Linked DNA regions of Homo sapiens. The protein of the gene in region 3 purifies or fractionates together with the protein of the main gene of each other region. This does not show direct contact. Each region holds a gene or a part of one and is shown on either strand. Other genes may lie near its edges. The genes, in order: AGAP3, CDYL, MIER2 and E2F6.

Region 1 (7,025 bases), on a different chromosome or scaffold from region 3:
GCAGTTCCGAGTGTATAACAAAGCCTCCCTCACTCTGTTTAGACTTCGGTGAAGGGTTTGTTTGTCCCAGCTCTGAAGGTGACGTGGGACCTGCGGTCAGGATCCATCTGGCTCTGAGGAAGTGCAGTGGGCACTTGGGCCTCCTGTAGTCTCTGCCACTCACAGTCACTTCTGACCCCGTGTCCAGGACAGGAGGAAGCAGGGGATGTTTGGCTTTCCTGTGTTTCAGGACAGGATTTGAGGAGAGGGAGACCATTTTGAAAAGTTCCTTTCCCACCAGAGGCCAAGGAAAGAGAAAACCTGCCCATTACTTGGCCTTAGGGAGTGGAAGAAGTACAGCCTTCAGCTGGGAGGGAGAGCTGGAGGGCTCACTATGTGCAGAGCCTCTGAGCCACCTTCACCTCACTAGTGGGGAAACTGAGGCTCAGAGAAGGGAGGGAGCCAAGCGGATACAGCCAGGGAGAGTATAGGCCTTCAACAGGAGCCCGCTTCCGGCTTGGCACTCACCTGCAGTGAGCGCTCCCTGACAGCTTGGGTTTCCTGGCTGAGTCCTAGAAAGAGGGATGCAGGAGAACGAGGGCCTCAGTCCAAATGGGGACACTGGGCACGTGGAGCGCAGGATGTTGTACCAAGCTAGCCAGGAGCCCCAAAGGAGCCCGGGATCTTTCCAGGACCTGCTGGTCCCAGTCGTTGTGTGCAGGTGAGGGCCCGGCACAGGGGAGGAGCAGGGGCTTGGGGAGGGCCTGGGATCCCTGCTGGCAGTTCCCAGATGGGGGGGGGGGGCTCCCGCCTGGAAGTGGAAGTGGACCTGACTATTAGGTGTGTGTGCCATATGGCTACTATTATGTGTGCCGGAGCTGGGCTTTGTCAGCTGGGTGACTTACTCAGGTTTCTCCATCGTTTTCCCACTAGGGCTTTTTTTTTTTTTTTTTTTTTTTTTAAACAGTTACTTCGAGCATTCCAGCCGGCCTGGCCTGGCCAGCAGAGCGTTCTCACTGTCACCCTTACCCCACTCACTTTCATTCAGTTCACAGATTGCCTGCCCTGGGCTGTGGGCTTGGTGACATCCTAAAGGGACTAAGGTAAAGAGATGTGGGGGTTTCTTGTTTGGGTCAAGCCTCAGCTAGACAGAGAAGGGGCCACAGCTGTGACTGCAGTTGGGTGGCAGCTCAGAGGGAGAGTAAGACGGTGCATGTGGCCGGGTACAGTGGCTCACGCCTGTAATCCCAACATTTTGGGAGACCAAGGCGGGCGGATCACGAGGTCAGGAGATCGAGACCATCCTGGTTAACATGGTGAAACCCCCGTCTCTACTAAAAATACGAAAAATTAGCCGGGCGTGGTGGCGGGCACCTGTAGTCCCAGCTACTCGGGAGGCTGAGGCAGGAGAATGGTGTGAATCTGGGAGGCAGAGCTTGCAGTGAGCTGAGATCGCACCACTGCACTCCAGCCTGGGCAACAGAGCAAGACTCCGTCTCAAAAAAAAACAAAAACAAAACAAAACAAAACGGCATACGCCCTGGCATCCCACAGCCCTCAGCCCTTAGGCACACCTGGGGTTTTAGTGTTTGTGTCTGTTTCTGTTCGTCCTGTGACTTGATCCTGGAGGACTGGCATGATGGTCCCCATGTTTGTGCCAGGGTGCTCTCTTGAGCTTTCCTTACTGTTCCTGGGTGGGCACTCCCTGGCCGGGCCCTGCATTCCGCCGTGGGCCCTGCTGCACCACACACTGCTGAGGTTCCCTTCAAAGATGAGGACTGGGGGGGTCTGGGATGGGTGCCGGGGACATGCATCTGGAGCCAGCCCAGGCCCCTCTGGCAATTCGTTGGTTTAGGGACTGAGTGTCTCATGGGGGCCTGGTTGCTTATGCAGGACTTTGCTCGCAAGAGTTCTAGCAATTCTGAAAAAGAGCATAACCATGTGGGTGCTAGTAGCCAGGGAAAGCTTCATTTGTTCCAGATACATTCATTTAGCTCCTACTGTGCGGCCCAGTTGCATCTAGCACAGTGAAAAGCAGACAATCAAAGGAGAGACAGGGAGCGAAGGGGCCAGAAGGTCTGGGCTTGGTGCACCTGGAGAGAACGACTCAGCCTGTAGGAGGTGCCAGAGAGGCACTGGGAGTCCAGAAGGAGACCTAGATTTTCAGAAGACCAGGGCAGGGCAAAGGTCAGAGACTTGGGAAACCTCATCACGACTTCTTTCTTCCGGGTCAGAAGCCAGAACAGGAAGACCTGTCCAGCCTGATCTCAGGCTGCATGGCCTCGTGGGAACCCCTGGTACCCTGCTCCATCCAGGGTCTCAGCTCTGGCTCTCCCCAGCAGTGGTACCCCACAGATGAAGCAGTCCTTGTCCCTATGATGCCACCTGGCAATCTTCCTGTATCATTTATTTCTTTCCTCAAACGTGTGCCAGGCCTGGGGGTCCGGAGGATTCCCACATAGAGGAAACAGGATGATGAAGATAACGGAGGCAGGAGAACATAGTGTGGCTCTCGGAACGGCAAGTTGGACTCTGCAGCTCGGGTGTTGAGTTGTAGGAGATGGGTGGGTGAGGTGGGCAGGACCCTGGTGAAGGAGTATTTCATGCTTTCTCCAGTATTTATTTCCACCCTGCCGTGTTCCTAGAAACCGCAGGAGTTGGTGCGTCATTCTGCGAAAGATGGGCGTCACAAGCGTTTAAGCCTTTGAGAAGGCTTGAGCCACGCCAGCATCCACACCGCTCGTTTGTGCTTGTGAGCCCCCTACCAGCTGTCAGTGCGTCCCTGGCCCAGAAGTGGAGGGAACGAGGTACGCTTCTTGGAAAGCAGGTGTAGCCTGGGAGAGCCAAGGCTGGGGGGAGACAGACACCCCCGTAAGAACTCCCATGTCCGTGTGTGGCATTGCCTAAACATCCACCTGTTGTGTTAGTTTCTTTTTAATATGCAGGTAACTGGAAATTAGTTTAATCTGATGCTTTCCTCCTGACCCCTAGCTGACTTAAACCATTGCAGGCCAAGTGGTAAGGGAGCTTATTTTGGAGCGCAGAGTTGAGGTAGGGAAGGGGGGTGAGCCCAGCCACGTGCTTTGAGGGCGCAGAGATTGGGTGGTGCATGTTCCACCCGTGAATGTTCTTCCCTCTGCCAGGCTCACTGCTGGGGGTTGGAATGAGGCTTTGCAACACTTTGCATCTCATAGTTTATTTTCCCAGAGGAGGGTCTTTTTTGGATTTGCAAGTATTTCCATTTCACAAGTGAGACAGCCTAGGACCTAGATTAAGTAACTTTCCTGAAGCCACGCAGTGAGGGGAGGAAGCAGGGATTTTCTCTGGTTCTCCAACTCCAGGTCTCTGTGGTTTGCCTTGCATGTATGGGCTGAATAAGTGTTGTTGGCCACACCACATCAGCCCTTAAAAGCTGCTTCTACAGGAAACTTTATGGGAGTCAAATGGACCAGAGTTTAACTCTTGGAAGCCTTTAGAATATAATTTTAGGGTGAATTAGGCCTCCTGCTCCCTACTATAATTTTCTTCTGCTCCCCACTATAATTTTCTTCTGGACGTCTTCAATCCCCAACTGAATTGAATGGTGGCTCTCTGAGGCGTCTGTCTCCCATGGGTAGCACGGATGTAGCGTACAATAGACAGATGCTTGCTCAAGAAACATATATATGTATGTATGTATTATATGTATGTATATGTGTGTGTATATATATTTTTGGAGACAGGGTCTCCCTCTGTTGTCCAGGCTGCAGTGCAGTGGTGCAGTCCTAGCTCACTGTAGCCTCAAAATCTTGGGCTCAAGCGATCTTCCACCTCAGTCTCCCAGGTAGCAGAGACTGCAAATATGCACCAGCACACCCAGCTAATTTTTTCATTCTTTGTAGAGATGGGGTCTTGCTATGTTGTTTGGCCTGGTCTTGAACTCCTGGACTCAAGCAATTTTTCCACCTCGGCCTCCCAAGGTGCTGGGATTACAGGCATGAGCCACCACGTCCGTGCCCAAATATGTATTTAATTTAAATTTCATTTTAATGTGTTTAAGGGATGAAAGTAAATACATGCTTGTTACAAGCCATTCAAATGTAGAAGTAGGAAGGTGGCTGCCCGGCCTCCCCTCTCCTGGGAGGATCTGTGGTGAGCAGTCGGATGTGCATCCTTCTGGTCTTTTTTCTATTAACGACTCTTTGCTGGATTTGCTGTTACTAGGCTTTCGCAGCAAACGTGGGATTGTTGTGGAAAATGCTTTGCTGGGAGAAGGGGAGCCGGAGATTCACAAAAGGAGGCTCCCGTGTTCATTTGCGTATTTGGCAGCTCCTAGGCTGGGAGTCAGGATACCTGGGTTCCCGTCCCTGCTCTGCCACTAACTGGCTGTGAGAGCTGGGGCAAGTCTGCTCTGGGTGCGTCTTCTGAGAGTCACATTCTGGTTGTCTATGCAGCTAGGGGTGACCCTGGCGTGAGTATCTGGAACAGGCCAGGCTTGGCTCCCTGGCCGGGGGTCTTGTCTGTCAAGTGAGCACCTGAGCTGGGGTCCCTGAGATCTGTTCTGAGGCTGCCTCTGTCATGCAGCACTTTGAGATGCGCCCCCCTTGGAGCCCTCCAGGAGCTGAGAATCAGAAGAGATCCTGTGGGGAGAGGTGAGATTTTCTGTACCTCTGTTTCCTTACCTGAGGTGGGTCATAACAAAGCTCTGCCGCTTGGTAGTGCTGAGGATTGAGACCCCCAACGCGGTGTGCTTAGAACAGTGCCTAGCGTGTCATAAGCACAGGTGAAATATCAGGCATTATTCTGAAAGGCGGCAGGGTATCCTGTGTAAGGGAATGCTGTTTATTACGTGCCGCCTTGTACGCTTGTCTCGTTATTGCTTTTGGACAAATTTTCAGAAGAAAATGGTCAGACTCTGGGGTCGGCACATTTTTAGGACGTTTGCGGCACTCTGGCACCCTGCCCTCCAGAAAGGCCATTTGATTTTCAGGCATAGAGACAGCCTGGAGTTCCCTGCCCCACTTCCCCGGCACCCCTTCTTCATCTGATACGTAAGAAAAAAAAAAAAAAGACTAAATGACTCTCGTTGTTTTACTTTGTTTGACTTTGATTACTAGTTGATCACTAGCTATTTCATTATTGGATTCACTTTGACTATTAGTGAGAGTTGATATTAAAACATTTTTGAGAGGTCATTTGCATTTTGTTCATTCTGTACATATCCTTTATTCATTTTACTTTTGGTTTGTTCCTCTTTTTCTTTTTTCTTTTTGTAAAAATGGGGTCTCACTATGTTGCCCAGGCTGGCTGTAAACTCCTGGCCTCGAGTGATCTTCCCGTCTCACCTCCCAAAGTGCTGGCATTTCAGGTGTGAGCCACCATGCCTGGCCTCCCCTCCCTTCCTCCCTCCCTTCCCTCCTTCCCTCTGTCCCTCCCTTCCTCCCTTCCTCCCTTCCTTCCTTCCTTCCTTCCTCAGAATATTGGTCTGTCACCCAGACTGGAGTGTAGTGACGCGATCGTAGCTCACTGCAACTTCAAATTCCTAAGCTCAAGCAATCCTCCCACCTCAGCCTCTTGAGTAGCTGGGACTCAGGCATGTGTCACCACATCTGGCTAATAATTTTTAAAATTGTCTTGTAGAGTCAGGGTCTGTGTTGCCCAGGCTGGTCTCAAACTCTTGGCCTCAAGTGATGCTCCTGCCTCCACCTCCCAATGTTACTTTTTCTTATTGAGCTGAAGACCGTTTTAATCTCTTTTAATGTAGGTTTTTCTACAACGTACATTTCTCTGTTTGCTGCAAGTCAGGCACTGTCTGAGTTCCCATAGTCAGCACTTCGGCCTCAATGTGCCCTGAGCTGAGCAGACAGTGCCATCCTCTGGGCCACCCAGGAGGCTGAGGCTGGCTGTGCCCGCTCCATACCGTAGCCCCAGATGGCTGTACCTTAGGGCTTTGTGCCTGTTCCTTTTCTGCCAGAACCCCTCCTTACCGCCGTAGGGGTGCCTGCCTACAGCAGCTTCCCTTTAGCCTTTTCAGTTTGGTGTTTTGATGGCTTGCAAACCTGAAACCCCAGCGCCTGGAGTGGGATCAAAGCCTGTCACAGGGGCAGAGGGAGGACCGAAAAGTCTAGACCCCTCCAGGGATCTCTGCTCTGCTTCTGCTGGGATCCCCACCCCTTCCTGGGCCTGGGTTTTTCCAGGCACTGGTGGATGGCACTTCTGTGCCTGGAGGAGGTTTTGGTTAAAGATGCTCTAAATGTCTTGTCCAATCACAGTTGTACAAAAAAAAAAAAAAAAAAAAAAAAAAGATACCAGAAAGGCAAGCCCCAGAGCCTTTGTTTGAGAAGAGTTGGGACGTTTTGGAGGCTTTCCATCACTCTGAGGCAGCACCCCCTGCCCCCCTGCCACCCCATTATTACTTCTAGATTGTTCTGGATGGTTCTATATTGGGTGATGTGGAATGAAGCCTGGCCTTCATTTCTTCTCTCAGGGCCTGAATAGAATAGAGGTTAAGCACCTGGGCTCTGGAGCCAGGCTGCCTAGATTTGAGTCCCAGACCTACCACTTGGGAGCTGTGTGACCTCGGGTGAGTTCCTTAACCCCTCTGTGTCTTAGCTTCGCCATTGGTAAAACATGGGCATCCGTTTCATGGTGTGGGCGTGAGAAGCAAATCAGTTAACGTCTGCAGAGCTTTTAGAGCAGCAGCTGCCCTGAGGATGTGCGTGCTGGGTGGCGACTGTCTCATTACTTGTCTCAGAGGCTCAGCTGTCATCACCGCCTGCGTGGGGATGCGTGAGGTGAGGGCTGCATGAGATCACAGGAATGACCATTTCCGGACCCGAGCCTGAGAGCCCAGGTGGCAGAGTGTGGGGTACGTTGGTTTAGCTCATCCAGGCCCAGGGGAAGGGACCTGAGGGGGCAGGGCTGTCACAGGGCCTGCACGTTCCCGTGAACACCCAGGGTCATCTTTGATGTTTTGCCTGTTGTTTTTTTCTCTGATTCAGCACTGTGCAGTAGACATGGGCGAGTCACACGTGTGAACTTAAATTTTCTTTTCTTTTTTTTTTTTT
Region 2 (7,025 bases), on a different chromosome or scaffold from region 3:
CCAGTGGCTGATTAACCTGGGTGGAGCTTGTCCACTCTTGCTGACAAGTCCAGGGGCTAAGGCCAAGTCTCAGCCCTCTCTGCCTCTTGCTCCCGGCTGCCCCTCTGCTTGCACCCATGTCCCTGCCCCTCACCTGTGAGAGTGTTAGCACGTGGACGGCTGCCTGTGCCAGGTACTGTGGCTTCTCCACCTGGCCTGTTGGGGGGTGGTCCCTCATTGCCAGCTGGGGAGCCGTGCAGTTTCTAAACCTCTCTCTTCACCCTCGGTCTGTCCACTCCCCTCGTCACAAGGTGGTTTCTCTGGAAGCTAAGATAGATTTGGGAAGCAGGGTCTGGTAGATTAGGTGCCAGCGTCCATGGAAGGGCAGAAAGGAAGCAGGATTGGGCAGAGCTGACTGACAGGGAGCTCTGGAACCACGTGGCCTCACGGCGGTTCCCGGTGCCCCACTGCAGTTGGCCGTGGGGTTGGCGGCCCTGGGAAGAGCGGTCCATGGGGGAGGCCCTGAGCTCTCTGTTGCCTGCTGACAGCACTTCCCACAGCAGGCAGTTTGCTGGGGTGGGGACGTGGGTGGCTTATCCAAGTCATTTGCTTTGTCCTTTACACCGTACTGCACGCACCTGACACCACCAGACTCCCATGGTAGAGTCATTATCAGTAAAATCAGTTCATCGTAGTGATTACTGTAAACGAGACTGTGTCCTGCCAGTTAACCCTGTCCCGGCAGGAAAGAATCCTCATCCTCTGGAACATCCCGTGAATCTCATTTTGAGTTATTTATCCAAAGGAGGTTGAGATCTGAGGTTCTGACCCCTCCCACTGTATGATCTATGTAGATGTGTGGTGTCGGTGCAGATGTGGGGCAAATACTAAACCACCTTGATGTTCAGACACATTTTGGCCAAAGACATTTTGGAAGTGGAGCCCTGGAGCTGAATGCTGCTCAGGGGTAGAGGTGTCAGAGTTCACCATTCCCAGAAAGGGCCATGAGGCTTGAAGTCATCACAGGACGAATGCCTGCCCTCTGGTCAGCCGTGTTTCTCCCTACTCTACAAGCCTTGGCAGATCTTTACTTTACGCTTCCCCTGGAGATGTACTGGTGCCTCTTGAGCTGCTGCTTTCAACTGGGCAGTTTTCACCCCCGACCTCACCCCTGGGGAACAATGTCTGGAGACAACTTGGTTGTCACACATGAGGAGATGGCCGTTAGCAGAGGCTGGGGTACTGCTCGGCACCCTCCATAGCCCACGGGACAGCCCTGCTTAGCACCCTGCATGTAGCCCCCACAGGACAGCCCCCACACCAAACAACAGTCCAGCCCAGAATGTCCCTAGTGTCCAGGGGGAGAAACCCTGCTCTAACTCAAGAGCGAAGAGCCTGCATTTCACTCGGCGTGAATTCTACACTTTCTGAGCAGAGTATCTGACGAAGCCTCTCTACAGAAAGTGAATAAACGTTGTTCAGATGACTTCGACAACTCTTGTTGAAAGTGACTATGCAGATGATGTAAATGATGTCGTTCCTTTCATGAGCCTTTGGTGTACTTGAGCTTTCAGCAGCCTGAGGCAAGACTGGACAAGTGTGGTTTTCCCCACTTTGCATGTGCAGAGCTCTGCCAGGAGGATAAGCTAAAGGAATCACATTATCAAGATAAAAAGAATATGCAAATAGTGCAGGCTGTGTGGCCTCTCCTTTCTTACAGCAGGCCCTCCGCTGTAGGCGAGGGCTACGTAAATCAGCCAAGGAGTCTCTTCCAGTTTAGCCTTCCTGGTGCCCAGTAGACATTCATGGAGTGCATGGAGGATGGCACGGTCTGACGCCCACAGGCTCCCACGTGGAAATCTTGCACCTCTCAGGGGCCTGCTGGGGTGTGAAGCTGGAGAATGCCCAGCGAGTACCTGAGGGCCTTACCCCACGCTCACACCTTGAGAGCCCTCTCTTGGGGACTTCAGAGACTGGCCTGAGGGAGCAGGTGGTAAAACCTCTGCCACAGCAGTCCCCATAAGGCTGAAGATTCCTGGATCCCCTCTGCTCATACTGGGCCAGTTTCCTCGCCACCCGTCCTGCTGTACTCTGGCCAAACTAAAAAGACATCTCTATTTAACTTTCCTCGGCATTTCCCATCTCTCTGGATGGTTCCAGGATAACTTTCTTTTAATAGTTGGACAACTTTGACCACATCATGGGGTGATGTAGGTTGTCTACAGGGAGTCCCTGTGCACTCAGCCATCTCAGAGCAACGTGCTAGCTGGTCAGGTTCCCACCGCCTGCATCTGTGTGAATCGGTTATTTGGGTAGAAGTTTGAAACCTCTCATTTTGAAACTACTGAAAATAGTGTGTTTATATAAGAATATGCTCACGCAAATTGCGTGTATTTAATCCTATAATACATATCTTACCAAGGGAGATTTGTTGTTGTTGTTTTCTTGGGTGACTGTCGTTCAAACCAACTCACTGGCCGTGTTTAAGTGAAAAAGCTTTAACAACCTAGCGTGAGCCCTGTCATTTTTGCTCTTGAGTAAATTGAGAAATGCCCTTGCTTGTCCTGCACATCCAACCACCTGGAATGGAGAACACCGAAGGTAGGGAAAGGATCTCCAGGGATGAGCAGGCCTGGAGCCGGCGGGGCTGTGGAGGAAGACCGGCCGCAATGAGTGAGTGCTGAGCAGAGAGAAGGGCCGTTCTCGGCTGGTATCAGGCCCAAGAGAGTCAACAAAGGGGGGACGAAAGGGAGACAGGGAAGAGAACAGTGGTGGGGCTGTAAGTTGACCTCCAGGTGGCAGAAAATAAAGTTGGAAGAATTGACTGGGACAGACAGCCAGGGCCCTGCAGGAAGGGCGGGAGAGGAAGCCTGCGGACACCTGCCCTTTGTGATTGAACCGCAGACACCAGGCCTGGCGGGGTCGCTTGCCTCCGCTGCCCAAGCTAAGGCTCCACTAAGCTGGTCCTGAGAACATACTTCATGCTCAACTTCAGGGATGTGGCTGTAGTGTCCTCACTCTATGCTGAGAATGAAAGAAGCACAGTCTATGAAAGGAAAACCCCGACAGCACAGAGCACTTCGTGCGGCAGCAGCACACCGGGAGTCCCACTCCCTTTCCTGCTGCGTTTGGATCTGCCGTGACAAGGACTATCAGAACCACTCACAGTAAGGTCGGGTCGCGTTTCTAAATCCACTGTTTATGGACCGTCTTTTCACTGAGAAGAAGCTCGTCAGTTCAGGGGTTTCTAGAACTTCTCCAGACTCTTCAAAAACTCATGACTTTCTCCAAGTTGGTAATCCCAGCACTTTGGGAGGCCCAGGCGGGCGGATCACGAGGTCAGGAGATCGAGACCATCCTGGCTAACACAGTGAAACCCCGTCTCTACCAAAAAATACAAAAAAAAATTAGCCGGGCGTGGTGGCGGGCGCCTGTAGTCCCAGCTACTCACGAGGCTGAGGCAGGAGAATGGTGTGAGCCTGGGAGGCGGAGCTTGCAGTGAGCCGATATTGCACCACTGCACTCCAGCCTGGGCGACAGAAGGAGACTCCGTCTCAAAAAAAAAAAAAAAAACTTGCAAACCCTCATGAGGAGCCTGTCCCCAGCCCTGTTTTCCAGCCTCTGCCTGCATGGGAGGGGCAGTGAGTCAGCCACGTGTTTGCTTTGCCGCCTCTGCCTGTGTGCTCTCCAAGCTGCGGGTTTCACATGCAGTAAACGGCATCAAGACATTGACAGAAGGTGTATGGGCAGTCTTACACTGTCTCAGCGACTTCAGGGCCAAAACTGTCTTTTGTGATTTTGCCTCTTTTGGAAGTGGAAGCCACCTACCGAAATTGTGTTTTACCAGAGCCCCAGGAGCTCATAGTCAAGGCTTTGTGACATCAGAGTTGTTAGGAAGGTTAACCGGGCAAGATAAACGACAGACCAAAAATTGTCCCCTCAGGCCAGTGTGGAGTTTCTTTATCAGACATGTGTGCACCCCTTCCCGCCTTATCTCGGCATCTGTGAGCCTGTCATTTGAATGATGTAAAATCCATACATGTTGTACTGAGACCTTAAAAGTGATCTAGTTCAGTGTCATGTATTAAAAAATAAAGTGATCTAGAATCCAGGACAAGGTTAAAATTAATTTCATATATACACATATATATTCTTTTAAAGAAAACCTAATGTTAGCTTTCTCCACTGAGCCGTGTGAGGTGACTGTAGCCAGCCCCTCAAGCAGATTACGGTCATTTTTCGCCACATTCAAGCCCTGGATAGTTCTGTCTTTTCGTATCCAAGCGATACAAGGCAGCCTCCAAGGTACGCTCTAGCAGAAACGGTCGCTGCCATTAGAATATTTTTTCTGTATATTAAAAACAAGTCACCATTGGCCTCCCAGATAAAGAAAAGGTTTGGTAGGAATTCTGTGCCTGGTTCAAATCCTTAAAATTATAAATTGCCTAACTTTGCATATGCTGATTTTCCCAGGATTGTTTTGTGTATTAAAAGAGCTCACACGTGGGAAGGGCCGGCATTAGGGGGAGGAAGGCAGATGAGAGGAGAGGAAGCTATACCAGTAACTTTTTAAACGAATGGCAAAAAGACCTTTTCTATTTTAGATTTCTTTATTGAGTCCCTGTAATTCTGTAGTAGGTTGTAAAATAAGACACTTTTTGCTTTCCTTTTTAAGAAAAAAATCATCAGCCCGATAGATTACTTTCCCACCTGCCCAATGGACTGCACCTTGCACAGGGTCTGTTCCCAGCGGCCCCTAGAGGATGTGCCCCATTTCCCTGCGGGGCTGGTATTTGTGAATGTTTCCCTTCGGTGTGGATTTTAAGGGATGGGTCTTCCCCGCCCGCCTCCCACCGCAATTCATATTACATCCACTCTTCTTCCTTGCAGGCAAACGAGATGCTGCTCAGTGGACGGAAGCTGACAGCGCAGGAGGCGTGTGGCAAGGGCCTGGTCTCCCAGGTGTTTTGGCCCGGGACGTTCACTCAGGAAGTGATGGTTCGCATTAAGGAGCTTGCCTCGTGCAATCCAGTTGTATGTCTAATTGCTTCTGTTACACGTTACTTTTTAAAAAATAGAAACTTTTCCCTCAGAGAGCTCACAAATTTGCAATTATTCCTAAGTCCTTTACGTTTGTCCTCAACAGAGCACCTTCCCGTGAAGTCCTGCCAGAACCTATTGCCGCCACTGCCCCCACGCACGCCTTGCCTTCCCTTTGCAAATACCCAGGAACCACAGAAATGGACTTCAGTCTGAAATGTCAGCAAGTTAGCAAATGTCCTATGAAAGTCAACAACAACTAACATGGATATAATTCTTTACTGGTTCCAAAGCCTTTCAGTCACATTATTAGCTTCTCCCCTGTTTCCCCACAGTGGGCCTAAGTTGTTTTTGGGTTGTTGTTGTTTGTGAGATGGAGTCTCACTCTGTCGCTCAGGCTTGAGTGCAGTGGTGGAATCTTGGCTCACTGCAACCTCAACCTCCCGGGTTCAAGTGATGCTTGTGCTTCAGCCTCCCGAGTAGCTGGGACTACAGGCATGCGCCACCATGCCTGGGTTATTTTTGTATTTTCAGTAGACACGGAGTCTCACCACGTTGGCCAGGCTGGTCTCGAACTCCTGACCTCAAGTTGATCCACCCACCTCAGCCTCCCAAAGTGCTGGAATTACAGGCATGAGCCACTGTGCCCGGCCTCCTAAGTTTTTGTTTAATAAATGTGCTAAATAGGCCGGGCACAGTGGCTCACGCCTATAATCCCAGCACTTTGGGAGGCCGAGGAGGGCAGATCACTTGAGGTCAGGAGTTGGAGACCAGCCTGGCCAACATGGCAAAACCCCGTCTGTACTAAAAATCCAAAAGTTAGCCAGGCTTGGTGGTGCACGCCTGTAATCCCAACTACTCGAGAGGCTGAGGTGAGAGAATCGCTTGAACCCGGGAGGCGGAGATTGCAGTGAGCGGAGATCCCGCCACTGCTGTCCAGCCTGGGCAACAAAGCAAGACCCTGTGTCAAAAAAAAAACCACAAATAATTTTTTTTTAAAATATGCTTGTAACAAAATTGCATTTGGCAAATTATAGGATGTGAAATGTATAATATTAACTGACACGACTCCCATCCCAGGCAGACAAGCAACCCTCATTATGAAAATTACATTTTGTTTAGAAAAATTCCCTCAACAGGCATCCCCAGAGCTTTCTGGGCATCAGCAGAGCAGACGTCCAGTTCGGGGGTCCACGCCAGTATGCGGCAGTGGCGCGGGGCCGAGGCTGCTCACAGGCTGGGTGCCGACAGCCCAGCTCTCCTTTGAAATAAGCCGTTTTGAAGTTAAGAATGCACCCAGTGCCAAGTGTGAAATGTGCTTTATACATATGTTAGGCCCGACATATTGTGAGAAAATGTCTGGTAACCTTTTTAACAGGTGATTGCTGGAATTTGATGATTGCCTCCGTAAATGTGGAGGCACAGGGGACCCGTGTCTGCCCGCATGCACCCTGCTAACTGGCTGCTTGTTTTCCGGTGCAGGTGCTTGAGGAATCCAAAGCCCTCGTGCGCTGCAACATGAAGATGGAGCTGGAGCAGGCCAACGAGAGGGAGTGTGAGGTGCTGAAGAAAATCTGGGGCTCGGCCCAGGGGATGGACTCCATGTTAAAGTACTTGCAGAGGAAGATCGATGAGTTCTGAGTGTCGGGCTGCCCACTGGTGACACCGGGATCGGGCTGAGCAGGAGAACATCACCGGCTCCAGTTCCCCTGATCCATTCTCACAGCCTGAAACAAGCTCACCCGTAGCTTACGCTTGGAAGCAGGACTGGGAACATCCACGCTATTTATTATCGAGGAGTTTTAAAGTACTGTAACTTTAAAATAAATAACTACAAAGCTTCTTTGTCCAAACGTCATTATTTTATACTTATATACACGCAGGTGTAAAAGTATAAAGGTGAGCACTAGACTGCTCTTAGAAGCTCTAATTTTTGTTTTCTTTGGCTAGTACTGTATAAAAAACAGAATTGTGTTTTATTGGTTTTGGATGACAGAAAAGTCTGG
Region 3 (7,025 bases):
AAAAGGTTGGGAGCCACTGTCTCACTGGATCTGCCTTGTGGATTCACTAACACTGAACTCACGGCCAGCAGCCCCAGAGCTTGCGCCTGAGTGGAGCTTCTCGAATTTTCTCTGAAAGGGACATCATAGCCTTCTTCCACCTAAGAACACCAGACAGAACGTCGGCACTACATTTAGGGGCCACTTTAATCCGTCAAGTAGCCGACACAAGGCACAAGGATGTGAAAAACGGCATTCAGTACACGGCAGGAAAGGCACGTGCTCACAGTAAAAGATCTGAGAGCCAAGACAGAGCAGCAGCTTGTCCCACCTCAGCTGGAACTGTACGTCAGGTAACTCGCCTTCACTGACACTCTACACACATCTGCTGGCGCCTGACCGTAAAGGTGTTGCGAGTTTTGATTTGCGGTTTCAAATAAATTTTACCAAGTAGGCAATTCACCAGCACAGAACCCACAAATAATGAGGACTGAGTGCATGAGATACATACACACAAGAGAGAACACTTCATGGCCAGGAAGCACGTTTATTCCACCGTGCACCGTTAACTTAACGTTTGAAAATCAATTTATGGGCCGGGCGCAGGGGCTCACACCTGTAATCCCGGCACTTTGGGAGGCCAAGGCAGGCGGATCACCTGAGGTTGGGAGTTCGAGATCAGCTTGGCCAACATGGTGAAACCCCATCTCCGCTAAAAATACAAAAATGAGCCAGGCGTGGTGGCGGGTGCCTGTACTCCCAGTTACTTGGGAGGCTGAGTGGGAGAACTGCTTGAATCCAGGAGGCGGAGGTTGTGGTGAGCTGAGATTATGCCACTGCACTCCAGCCTGGGCAACAGAGCAAGACTCCATCTCAAAAAAAAAAGATTAAAACTTGTCAGTTGCTGAAAAAAATAAGTTTTAATCTTAAAACTTACATAGATATGCAATGAAAACTTACAAAGTTAGAAGACTTGCACCACCTCAGACTTCCTTGTAACCTGTAATAACTGAGACAGTGGCGATGACTCCGGGTGAGACAAGACACACCTTACAGGCACCTGATTTACCACAAAGGCGTCACTGCAGCTCAGTGGGGGAGACAATGGACTTTTGTTGTTTTTATTTTTATTTTTATTTTTATTTTTTATTTTTGAGACAGAGTCTCGCTCTGTCACCCAGGCTGGAGTGCAGTGGCGCGATCTCGGCTCACTGCAAGCTCCGCCTCCCGGGTTCACGCCATTCTCCTGCCTCAGCCTCCCAAGTAGCTGGGACTACAGGTGCCCGCCACCACACCTGGCTCATTTTTGTATTTTTAGTAGAGACGGGGTTTCACCGTGTTAGCCAGGATGGTCTCAATCTCCCGACCTCAAGTTATCCTCCCACCTCGGCCTCCCAAAGTGCTGGGATTACAGGTGTGAGCCACCACGCCCAGCCACCATACACCAAAATGTAAACTAAGTTGGATCACAGCCTTAAATGTGAAAGGAAAAACAATAAATCTTCTAGAAAGAAACGTGGAAGAATATCTCCAAGAGCCTGAGGTAAGCAAACACTCCTTAAGTAGAACACACACACACATTATTATTCAAATAATGATTGATAAGTTGGACTTTATTAAAATTAAAGACATCACTAAGAGAGTCAATGGGCAAACCACAAACTGGAGAAAACAGCAGCAGTGCACAAAGCCCAGAAAGACTTGTTTCCACAAAATGTGAATGACTACAAATCAGAAAGGGAAAGACAACAAAATGGGAGAAAGCTTGGAGCACGCAAAGAGAGAATATCCAAATGGCCAGTACACCTGCGAAAGGTGCTCACCAGGGAAATGCCAATTAAAACCACAATGGGACAGGAGTCCATATCCACCAGACGGGCTAAAATTCAGGCAAATTCACCCTCAGTGGCAAACACCGAGAATGTGGAGCAACTCCCACAAATCATTAGTGAGAAACTCAAGCAGTATGCGTCACCCTAAGCACACACCTCCCACACGACTCCCCGCTGTCCATCAAGTGCCGAGTGCCTATGTCCACTAACGACGCACACGAGGGCATTCACAGCCCACAGCTGAACCAACCATGACCGCAGCCCATGGCAGAAAGGGTGGGTAAATGTGGCATCCAAACCAAGGACCACGATGCAACACACAAGACACACACAACCACGGCATCCAAACCAAGGACCACAATGGAACACACAAGAGACTCAAAAACCATGGCATCCAAACCAAGGACCACAACGCAATACACAAGACACACACAACCACACAGACAACTCAAATGACAGACGTCATCACAATGCAATACACACGACACACACAACCACGCAGACGACTCGAATGACACAGGCGTCATCACAATGCAATACACAGGACACAACCACACAGATGACTCAAATGACACAGACGTCATCACAATGCAATATACAAGACACACACAACCACGCAGACAACTCGAATGATACAGTCGTCATCATAATGCAATACACAAGACACACACAACCACGGCATCCAAACCAAGGACCACAACGCAATACACAAGACACATACAACCACGCAGACGACTCGAATGACACAGACATCATCACAATGCAGTAAAGACACACACAACCACACAGATGACTCAAAGAACAGACATCATCACAATGCAATACACAGGACACACACACACAACCATGCAGACGACTCGAATGACACAGGCATCATCACAATGCAATACACAGGATACAACCACACAGACGACTCAAATGACACAGACGTCATCACAATGCAATACACACACAACCATGCAGATGACTCAAATGACAGACATCATCACCATGCAATACACAAGACACACACAACCATGGCATCCAAACCAAGGACCACAATGGAACACACAAGACTCAAAAACCACAGCATCCAAACCAAGGACCACAATGCAATACACAAGACACACGCAACCACACAGACAACTCAAACGACACAGACGTCATCACAATGCAATACACAGGACACACACAACCACAGACAACTCGAATGACACAGACGTCATCACAATGCAATACACAAGACACACAAAACCACACAGACAACTCGAATGACACAGGCGTCATCACAATGCAATACACAAGACACACACAACCACACAGACGACTCGAAGGACATAGGCGTCATCACAATGCAATAAAGACACACACAACCACACAGACGACTCGAATGACACAGACGTCATCACCATGCAACACACAGGACACACACAACCACGCAGACGACTCGAAGGACACAGGCGTCATCACAATGCAATACACAAGACACACACAACCACGCAGACGACTCAAAGGACATAGGCGTCATCACAATGCAATAAAGACACAACCACACAGACGACTCGAATGACACAGGCGTCATCACAATGCAATACACAGGACACACACAACCACGCAGACGACTCGAATGACACAGACGTCATCACAATGCAATACACAAGACACACACAACCACGCAGACAACTCGAATGACACAGGTGTCATCACAATGCAATACACAAGACACACACAACCACGCAGACAACTCGAATGACACAGACGTCATCACAATGCAATACACAGGACACACACAACCACACAGACGACTCGAATGACACAGGCGTCATCACAATGCAATAAAGACACACACAACCACGCAGACGACTCGAATGACACAGACGTCATCACAATGCAATACACAAGACACACACAACCACGCAGATGACTCGAAGGACACAGACGTCATCACAATGCAATAAAGACACACACAACCACACAGACGACTCGAATGACACAGACGTCATCACAATGCAATACACAAGACACACACAACCACGCAGACGACTCGAATGACACAGACGTCATCACAATGCAATACACAGGACACACACAACCACGCAGACGACTCGAATGACACAGGTGTCATACCGAGTGGGAGGGGCCAGCTGGCATCCCATGGGACGAAGAAGTCCTGGCTGCTCCAGACAGGGCACCCTCATGGGGGGTGAGTCAGGGTGGGGAAAGGGCCCTGATGACAGACTCCAAAGCCAGGGTTTCTGGGTGAGGGTCCCAAGTGTCCCCTCCGACCCTGCCTTCTGGATGTCCCAGCAGCTTGGCTGCACCTTCCTGGCTCCGTCCTCTTCTCACACGGGGCACCCCCGACCAGCCCCAGGAGGACGACTTCTCTTCACGGAGGGTCCCTGTCTCCCTGGACTCAGTACTTCTGCTGCACCTGTCCCTTCCCACCACGCATCTCAGCCACTGAATCACCTTGGAGAAGGCTCCTGAGCTAGGAGCACTGGCCCAGGGCCTGCAAGGGCTCCAGGGCAACACAAATGAGACCCAAGTCAATGGGCACGTGACTCCACGCCTCAAAGGGGCAAGAGAGGGTCGATTTTGAACTCTAGTGGGAAAGAGACGAAGGTCAAGCCCAGGAAAGGGAGCACCCTGAAGAGGAGCGGAGCAAGGCCGGGGGTGCAGCGCAGCATCCGGCGGGTCTCTGGAGAACCATCTAACCCGGCACAGAGCCATCGAATGCAGCGGCCCAGGCTGTGGGGAGGCGGCTGGAGTCAAGGGCAGGGCAGGGCTGGGTCAGAGGCAGGACGGGCTGCTGAGGGTCTGGCTGCACAGGCTGACCAGAGCAGACCCCAAGGGAGGGACAGAGCTGGGCAGGGGCAGGCAGCAATAGGCCCACTGCAGCCACGAGAGCCTCCCACCTCCTCCAGCCACAGGCTCAGCTGCCCCAGTGAGCGATGCGGGGCGGGGACCTGACCAGACTGTCCAAGGATCTGACGTCCAGCCAGGCCACTCCCCTTGCAGAAGTGGGTTTCGCCTCCTCTCCCCAGGCCCTACTTACTCTTCTCACAGTGCCGGTTCAAGTGCAGGTTGCTGAGGTCAGCTTGGAACTGAGGTCCCACCATGATCTCCTGCAAAGCAAGCACCTGGGAATCAGGACACTGAGGAGCATCTAGGCCGGGCGGGAGGCTGGCTGCAGCGTGCTGTGGCAGGCTTACGGGGAGGGGCCACTGTCCAGACCCCAGACCCATCTGTGCCGTCTACCTGCTGATGCCCAGTTCTGGGGTCTGAAGGTGGGAGGCAGAGGCCTGGGTGTGTGAGGGGTGAGGCTGTGTCCTGACGCCTGGCCTGGCAGAGGCCCAGACAGGATGTCGGAGGACAAACACTCTGGGTCAGCAGCAGGGGCCCAGGCTCCGGTCCAAAGCACCTGTGGCCGGTCCCAGCCCACCCTGGGGTCGAGCAGCACGTCCCTCCTCTGAGAAGGGGCACAAACCCAGGGAGAGGGCTCAGCAGGACCCGGCTGCGGTTACTGAGGCCGAGATACCAGGTTGGGGAGAGGGCAGAGCCATGGGAGGGATGCCAGGTTGGGGACACGGCAGAACCACGGCTGGGATGCCAGGTTGGAGACACAGCAGAGCCACGGTCGGGATGCCAGGTTGGGGACACAGCAGAGCCACGGTTGGGATGCCAGTTTGGGGAGACGGCAGAACCACAGTCCGGATGCCAGGTTGGGGACACGGCAGAGCCACGGCCGGGATGCCAGGTTGGGGACACGGCAGAGCCACGGCCGGGATGCCAGGTTGGGGACACGGCAGAGCCACGGCCGGGATGCCAGGCTGGGGAGACGGCAGAGCCACGGTCGGGATGCCAGGTTGGGGAGACGGCAGAACCACGGCCGGGATGCCAGGTTGGGGAGATGGCAGAACCACGTACCTTCTTACATTTGTTGGCAGGAAGAGAGTCCTCCTCGGTGTCGGAGGAGGCAGAAGAGCCAGGCTCTCTGTCTTCATCAGCCAGGAAACGAGCTTTGGGAAAACAGAGGCAGGTCCCCCAGGGTCTCCACTGCCTGCAGCCTATACAACCCCTTCTCTCCACTCCCATTCTCCATCCACCTGATCCCCAGGCCATAACCCTCTCTCTGGCCAGACATTGGGTAAACAGATGGGCACAGGACCCAGGACCAGGGATGCACCTTTGAAGAAAGAGGCCTTCCCTTCTATGCAGCTGCTGCACCTCTGGGCCCCGAGCCCTCAGTTCCCAGGAAAGCCAGCACAGAGGCTTGTGAAGGAGGCCGGTTCTGGGAATGCTGTCCCTGGATCTGCTAGGGGAACCAACATGTTCCCTACTTGTTTAAACCAAATCGCTCTGAGAGTCCAGGCTCACTGGCCAGCGTGGAGGAGAACAAAGCACCCCCAGGGCTACTGACGCTTCCCGCCAGGCAGACGCCCTCATCTGTGATGAGTTCTTGGCCTGCATCAGCCCAAGGACCCTTCATCAAGCATCACGACTGCCTGGCAGGGGGCCTGGCTGCGGTGGAGTATGGGGACAGAGTCACCTACATCCACTCCGGTTAGGGAAGAGGTCGGAGGCCTCGTGGGAGGTCACGGACGGGGTGAGGTCGTCAGCAGATGATTGCGTCTCTTCCTCTTCTTCCCCTGAAAGCAAATCCTTCGCTATTTGTTCCTTTAAAAAAAAAAAAAAAAGTAAAGAACATTTTACAGTTTAACAATCTCGCAATACCACTAATGATAACAACAGTAAAGACACTGGGAGTGCCCTGAGGCTCACATGGGGCTGCTATTCCCATTCTGCAAAGGGTGCACAGCGTGGGGGGAGCGGGGATGGGAAGGAGACACGTGGGAGCCCACACCCAGCCACCAGAGCTGGAGACAGTTAGAGCTGCCACTGGGCACACGCCCGGAGTGCATGGCTCTTTCTCTGACTGTGCATTTGGTTTTAACCTTCTACAATGCAGCCCGCCCCTGCTCCCAACACCCAAGCCTTGACCTGTGACCTCTGGGTACGGAATGGCAGAGAGACCAGTCCTGGGGAGGCCCCGATGTGCCCCTCCACCCACCAAAGCCAGAATGACATGTGGCCTGGGGTTAAGGCTAGGGTCCAGCCCCATGCCCATGGCCATTCCAACCCCAGGGTAGTGGTCACAGGTACATTCTACTTATTCTGGGGGCCTTTGTGCCTCCTCTCACTGAACACTCCCCTCTGCAGAGAGGCAGCGCCAGG
Region 4 (7,025 bases), on a different chromosome or scaffold from region 3:
TTGAGGGTCAGCTGTATATTGGTACCATCTGTATTGGTGGTCTTAATATTTGAGAACGTGATAAAAACTCTAAGCTCACTGTGGAAAAACCACTTAGTTTGCATGTAGTATCAGCAGATACATCCCTTGAAATCTTAGACATACAGTTCTGGTATTTTCAGTTACCATGTCATAATTCCCAAATCTATAAATCTCCTTCAGGGTTTTCCAGCTGTCTACTAGACCTTCCTACTTAGGTTTCAAACTCCTATTAGTCCCCTCTCATCTGAGGTTTCACTTTTCTTTATTTCAGTTAACCTGTGGTCCCCCAAACTATTAAAATGAAAATTCCAGAAATAATTCATTAGTTTTAAACTGCTTGCCATTCTCAGTAGTGTCATGAAATCTTGAGCTGTCCAGTACCACCCAGCACCTGAATCTTCCTTTGTCCAGAGTTCCCATGCTGTCACTGCGCCCTGCCCTTAGTCGCTTAGTAGCTGTTTCTTGATTCTCAGACCAACTGTCACGGTGCTTGTGTTAAGTAGCCCTTATTTTCTCAGTAATGGCCCCAAAGCACAAAAGTAGTGCTTCCAGTATGCTTCCAGTAGTGCTTCCAGTATGCTGAAGAGAATTGATGAAGTGCTTCCTTTAAGTGAAAAGATCTAAGTTCTTGACTTAGTAAGGAAAGAAAAAAAATCTTATTCTGAGGTCGCTAAGATCTACAGTATAAGATATTTTGAGAGAGAGACCACATTCACATAACTTTCATTGTAGTTTATTGCTATAATTGTTGTATTTTATTATTAGCTGTTAATCTCTTACTATGCCCGATCTATAAATTAAATGTTATCACATGTATGTATGTATACGAAAAAATAGTATATATAGAGATTGGTACTGTTTGCGGTTTTAGGCATCCACTGGGGGTCTTGGAATGTAGCTCCCAGGGATAAGGGTGGACTACTCTATATCCAGAATTGAATTTATTACTCTATTGGTCAGGGCTCTCCAGAGAGACAGACCAATACTAACACAGATTTTGGTACCAGGAATGGTTCTGGGAAACAGAATATTAAAGATGAGTTTCCTTAATTGGGGTTTTTGGAATTGATTCTTTAATCTGATTAGAATCTAAAAATGCCAAGAGCTCTACTTCTAATAGTAGAGAGAGCACTGGAAGTCCATGACACAAACTGTTTATAGATATGCAAAATAAATGCCTTTTTATTCTAATTCACTGCTTATAAGAGGCAAAGAATTTAGTGACGCTATATGTGATATTTTCAAATATTTTTGGGAAAACAAGGATTATAATGACATTGGTTGGTTGCTCCTATTGTCTTTGGACAAAGTGATGAAAGAAAAGGATGAGCTCAGGGATTCAGTTTCATGGCTGGAGTTCCACATAAATGACCTAAAAGTTTCTAAGTGTGCCCTGGGTTAGAATCTTCTATCCTGTAGCCATGGGGCTGAAATTGCTGAAAATCAAACACAAGCCTTCATCATGTAACTGGCCAAATTACAATGGAAGTTGAACTCTTGGCCAGTCATGGTGGCTCATGCCTGTAATCCCAGCACTTCGGGAGGCTGAGGCGGGTGGATCACCTGAGGTCCGGATTTCGAGACCAGCCTGGCTAATGTGGTGAAACCCCGTTTCTACTAAAAATACAAAAAATTAGCCAGGCTTGGTGACGTGCGCCTGTAATCCCAGCTACTCGGGAGGCTGAGGCAGAAGAATCACTTGAACCCAGGAGGTGGAGGTTGCAGTGAGCCGAGATTGTGCCACTGCACTCCAGCTTGGGCAACAAGAGTGAAACTCCATCACAAAAATAAATAAATAAATAAAATAGAAAGTTGAACTCTCTTAGCCTCACAGAGCATCTACTGTTAAAGTGAGGGTATTGGTTGGGAAAGAGTGGGGTCCTGCAAGTTTGGATGGGATCATGTGGGAAGATGAGGCTGGACACATTGAGCCCCTAAATTCTGATGAGTCTTGTTTGCCAGAGGGGCAGTAGCATTTCCACCTACAGTGGTATCATCCTTTCCACCCCTGTCTAAGGGGATTAATTCTGCATTGCCTGTGGAGATAGTAATGGCCTCCTCTGAAACAGTTCCCGGACAAGACAGTGCTGATTCTCATCAGGACCCACCCCGCCACCCCTCTTTGCTTCTAGACCTATTACTAGACCCAAGTCCCAGCAGACCCCTAAAGGTGAGGTGCAAAGTATGACTCACTCCACTTCTGGTACCAAATCTGTATTAGGTTTCTGGTCCTGTAAGATTATAGTGGAGCTGAAAAATTTCTATCACCTGGTGACATTGTAGCCATCATAATGGTCATAGCACCAAACATTACCTTTTCTATGTTTAGATGCACAAATACCATTCTGTTAGTTACCGTTATCTACAGTATTCAGTCAGTCACATGCTCTACAGGTTTGTGGCCTAGCAGCAATAGGCTATACTGTATAGCCTAGGTGTGTAGTGGGCTGTACCATCTAGGTTTGTTTAAGCACTCTATGATGTTCACGCAACAAAATCGCCTAATGACGATTCTGAGAAGATGCATGATTGCATGTAGATATATGAGAGGGAATTTATTAGGGAAATTGGCTCATGATTTTGGAGGCTGAGAAGCCCCACAATAGGCTGGCTGCAAGCTGGAGACCTTGGGATGCTGGTAGCATGGCTCAGTCCAAGTCCATAGCATGAGAACCTGGGAGGCTGCTAGTGTAACTCCTAGAGTCCAAAGGCCAGAGAATCTGAAGTTGTTGTCCAAGGACAAACGGGAAAGAGGGTCCCAGAGGATCTGGACTTCTGAGAAGGGAGAAAATAGCATTGATTGGAGGTAGAACTTGGTCTGCATAATTGAAAAATAAGGAAAATTTGAATGGGTGAGAATGCAATAACCTTTCCAAAGACCTCTTGAAGGAATATTGCTCCCCAAAACAGAATTGGTGTAGAGAAACATCTGTATAGAGAAAGGTTTAACCAGCTTGGAGGCAGTGCTTAGCATTTTAGTCCCTAAACTTCATCTTTTATTTTTTTTTCCACCTTTGAAGCAGCTCTTCAAAGCTACACAATAAAGTATAGGTCTTTAAATAGGGGACTTGGAGCAGTGGTGAAATAGCTTGGAATTTGAAAAAATATGCTGACTTGCCCCAGAAGATGCTGGTTCCTAGAGAGCTGTATACTCTGTCAGGGCACAAGATCAGCCTGAGTGATTTTCATTTTGTAAGCCTCTGACTTCTCCATTCATTTTGCAGCTAGCATGCAAACAATCTGCCTATTTATCATCTTTTTTTTTTTTGAGACGGAGTCTCGCACCGTCATCTGGGCTGGAGTGCAATGGCACGATCTCAGCTCACTGCAACCCCTGCCTCCCGGGTTCAAGCGATTCTCCTGCCTCAGCCTCCCAAGTAGCTTTTATTACAGGTGCCCACCACCACCCCCAGCTAATTTTTTGTATTTTTAGTAGAGACGGGGATTTCACTATGTTGGCCAGGCTGGTCTTGAACTCCTGACCTTGTGATCTCCTCCCCCCACCCCGCCTCCCAAAGTCCTGGGATTACAGGCATGAGCCACCGCGCCTGGACTTATGTTTCTATCTATATGTCTGTATATGATGTCTGCCACTGAGGGGCAATGGTACTGTTGTGATTCCTCCAAGATAGAGTGTTTTTGTATTTGAAGAGGAAAAAAAAACAAATGAATGCTCTTGGAGACTGTTTTCCCACATACATCAGTATAGCCAATATGTAATGGAACTGCATTGATAGCAAAGAGTGGGGAAAACAAAGCCATCTTTTTTCATATTATGCCTAACTGAGGTGTTATTTCTGTACCAACCTGTGATCCACTGTCTAGATGAGATGGGTAGGGAGGTGTGTAGCAGAGAAGACACCCTAGAATGCATAGCTAGCGAGGCAGCCTCTTTGGGAGCCAGTAAGTAGAGTGTGTAAGTCCTGGGCCTGCTACTCTGAATTAAGAACGGGAACCTCTGCAGCAAGGCCCCTCTGAGCTTATATATAAGGATTTAGGATGTTTGTTTATGTGTGTTTCAAATCAATGTGATAAGGATGGATTTTTTTTTTTTCCATTCAAGAATCTTGCTACCGTAGCTGGCCCGTCTCATACTATTAGCAGAGGGGTTAAATGTAAAAATAGCAATGGCAGTTGGTCACACTTGTCTAATGTCTGACTTTGATAGGACTGCTTCAGAGTTTCACTGTTGGATACCATGTTTGCAAGTCACCATTGTCAGCACTGTTTGAGAGAGCTGGCCAGACCTAGTCCCTACCCCCAAGGCCAGCATTCCCAGCTCCAGTGTTGCATGCCCTAGCAGGTCTACGTGTTCAATTCTAACAACTAAATTAATTTTACAGTGGGATTCTGTCTCAATGGGAGTATTCCATATTGGGGTGATTTGTTAATAGATGCTATCATCTTGTCATAGATGATAAGGAAATCATTGTGCCGAGGATATTGTTAACACCAGTATAAACAAAGAGCTTCTTAACTGCTCACCTTGCCTTCAGGCTTCCTCATTTCCCAGTCCTTTTGCCATATTGCTGCCATACTTATATTTCTAAACCATTTACTTAATTATGTCCTAGTCTGGTTCAGAAACCTTTGGTGATTCTCTACTGGTTATGACATAAAGTCCAAACTCTTTAGCATTAGTTTTATGTGGTGCCAGCATGCCCTCCCAGCTTCAAAGTCAAGTCACTTACACACTGGCCACTTCAGTGGGTTCCCAGAAACATGCCATGCCATATACATCTTCACACCTTTGTTCATTTCCGGTACCACAATCCTGTCTTTTTTCTTCTCTCCCCACAGTTGTTTATTCAGGCAAATCTGGCTTGCTGGGCTAGGCTCAGCTGAGGGCTGCCTTCGCCATGAATCCTTCTGTGAGTTCCCTGTCTGGGTGTATCCCTAGTACTGCTGTTGATTCTCTTCTTAGAGTACCTATGAATTCACTTGCCCCAGTTTTGCTTTATGGCCAGTTTTTTCTTAGATAAGAGCTAAACCTGATGACAGCCTGTCTGGAGGCACATTAACATTGATGTTACTAGGAGTTTCTGTTCATAGGCTTTCATTTTAAGGTTTGGTTTCATTTTATTTATTTTTTACAGAAAAACAGTTTCTAAATGTTACTACCAGTTTTATGCAAACTTTCAGAGCCTCTAAATAGCTGGTAAAATGGTGAGCATTGATAATGGAGCTTCTACTAATTTCCTGGTTGTTTCAGGAATTTAAAAGAAACTTTTTATCTAACGCAAAAGTTTCTAGTTACCCACAGCATGCATTGTTTTCCATTGTTAGAAATGCTGCTGTTTTTACATTAATTATAATGGGAATGCATAGCTGCCTATGAAAGCTTGTGAGCAAATTTTGGGGAACCACGTGTACTTAATAATAGCAAGGAGTGAGCATGTGTTGGTTGAGATAGATCTTCTATCTCTACTAAGCTTTCCCAAGTCAGGGACAGTGTTGTAATGATCGTACCTGATGTATTCAGTATATTTTGTGTGTGTGTGCATGTTTTTTTGTTTTGTTTTGTTTTTTGAGACGGAGTCTTGCTGTGTTGCCCAGGCTGGAGTGCAGTGGCATGATCTTGGCTCACTGCAACCTCCACCTCCTAGATTCAAGCGATTCTCTTGCCACAGCCTCCCAAGTAGCTGGGACTACAGGTGCCTGCCACCACGCCCGGCTAATTTTTGTATTTTTAGTCGAGATGGGGTTTCACCATGTTGGCCAGGCTGGTCTCGAACTCCTCACCTCAGTGATGCACCTGCCTCGGCCTCCCAAAGTGCTGGGATTACAGGCGTGAGCCTCTGCCCAGCCAGTAATTATCATATTCATATTCCCAGACCTTTATACTATTGAGTAAAATGCTATTTGTTTGCATTGTTGTTTTAAAATCACTAAGTTAAATTTTTTATCTTTTTTTTCAGCCATCAAAAATAAGGATTAATTTAGAAGATAATGTACAATATGTGTCCATGAGAAGTAAGTTGATTCCTGAATAGGTTTTAGGTTTTGTTAGTTTGAACTTCTTATGATTAAAATGATTTGTTTAAGTGTATGAGTTGATGAGAAACTGAAATACAATTTGTTATGTGTACACTGAAATGTAAAGTTGCAAGTTTTAGTAACAACTCCTGAGGTTATGGGTTGAATCATGTGCACAAATGCCAGTTTATTCTCCATAGAACAGTCTGTATTTAAGGCTATTTTCTCAGAATTCCTCCTGGGAGAGAAATGTACTCTTTCCTTCTTGTCCCTTATCTTAGGTTAATGTTTAGGGTATCTGTTAGAGGCGATAGGATGTAAATGGCTCTAGTTCCCTCTTCTGGAAGTTTCCATGATAGACCGCCCCACCTCAGCTTCCTAATCTCAGTGGATACATAGTGCATCGATAAGTCAGTGTGAATCTTAGAAATACTCACCCTTAGTTTTGCCTCAGTGCCTGCCCCAGTCTCACCCATAGTTGGTCACTGAGTTTGGTCAGCTTCACCTTTGATGTGTTTCTTGCATCTGTCCCATACCACCAATTTATAATAATATCTAACATTTATTGAGCTCATACAGTGCCTGGCACTGCATTAAGCTCTCTGCATGGATTGTCACAATGACCTTTCAAAATATAGGTATGGATTAGAATTCTTACTTTATAAAGGCCCAGAGAGGCTGAGGTGAGTTGCTCAGAGTCAGGGTTGAATCTCTTACCTCTCTGACGCAAGAGCCCAGAGTCTTTACCACAACGTTGAATTGCTTCTTCTCGTTCAGGGTCTAACTTCCTCTGTAGCTGAAGTTGCTGGGTCTCCTTCTTAGAAGGCAGTCAGCTTCCAGGCTTTCCAACCTGGATGCTGGAAAAATCCAGGGGGATTTGTCTAATACAGAAATTGGATTATGATATCATTCAACCTAAGTTCTTCAGTGACGCTCTTTTACATGTAGAGAAAACCCTGATTCCTTGTATATTTGATTTTAAGTGTTTGCATTAAATTCATAAGCCACTTCATATTAAAAGAAACAAG

What was found.
Region 1: the proteins of MIER2 (region 3) and AGAP3 purify together in Homo sapiens (affinity purification with mass spectrometry; 3 studies listed by BioGRID and IntAct, with this or other methods). This does not show direct contact.
Region 2: the proteins of MIER2 (region 3) and CDYL purify together in Homo sapiens (affinity purification with mass spectrometry; 4 studies listed by BioGRID and IntAct, with this or other methods). This does not show direct contact.
Region 4: the proteins of MIER2 (region 3) and E2F6 purify together in Homo sapiens (affinity purification with mass spectrometry; 3 studies listed by BioGRID and IntAct, with this or other methods). This does not show direct contact.

What each region holds. Positions count from the first base shown.
Region 1 is NC_000007.14:151,089,466-151,096,490, forward strand, and holds part of AGAP3 (arf-GAP with GTPase, ANK repeat and PH domain-containing protein 3), read left to right. Parts: exon of another isoform or gene 1-700; intron 701-7,025. UniProt on the Homo sapiens protein: GTPase-activating protein for the ADP ribosylation factor family. GTPase which may be involved in the degradation of expanded polyglutamine proteins through the ubiquitin-proteasome pathway.
Region 2 is NC_000006.12:4,947,397-4,954,421, forward strand, and holds part of CDYL (chromodomain Y-like protein), read left to right. Parts: intron 1-4,869; coding exon 4,870-5,013; intron 5,014-6,501; coding exon 6,502-6,660; 3' UTR 6,661-7,025.
Region 3 is NC_000019.10:320,790-327,814, forward strand, and holds part of MIER2 (mesoderm induction early response protein 2), read right to left. Parts: intron 6,468-7,025; coding exon 6,344-6,467; intron 5,810-6,343; coding exon 5,718-5,809; intron 4,916-5,717; coding exon 4,846-4,915; intron 1-4,845. UniProt on the Homo sapiens protein: Transcriptional repressor.
Region 4 is NC_000002.12:11,456,148-11,463,172, reverse strand, and holds part of E2F6 (transcription factor E2F6), read left to right. Parts: intron 1-4,820; exon of another isoform or gene 4,821-4,880; coding exon of another isoform or gene 4,881-4,892; intron 4,893-5,939; coding exon 5,940-5,994; intron 5,995-7,025. UniProt on the Homo sapiens protein: Inhibitor of E2F-dependent transcription. Binds DNA cooperatively with DP proteins through the E2 recognition site, 5'-TTTC[CG]CGC-3'. Has a preference for the 5'-TTTCCCGC-3' E2F recognition site.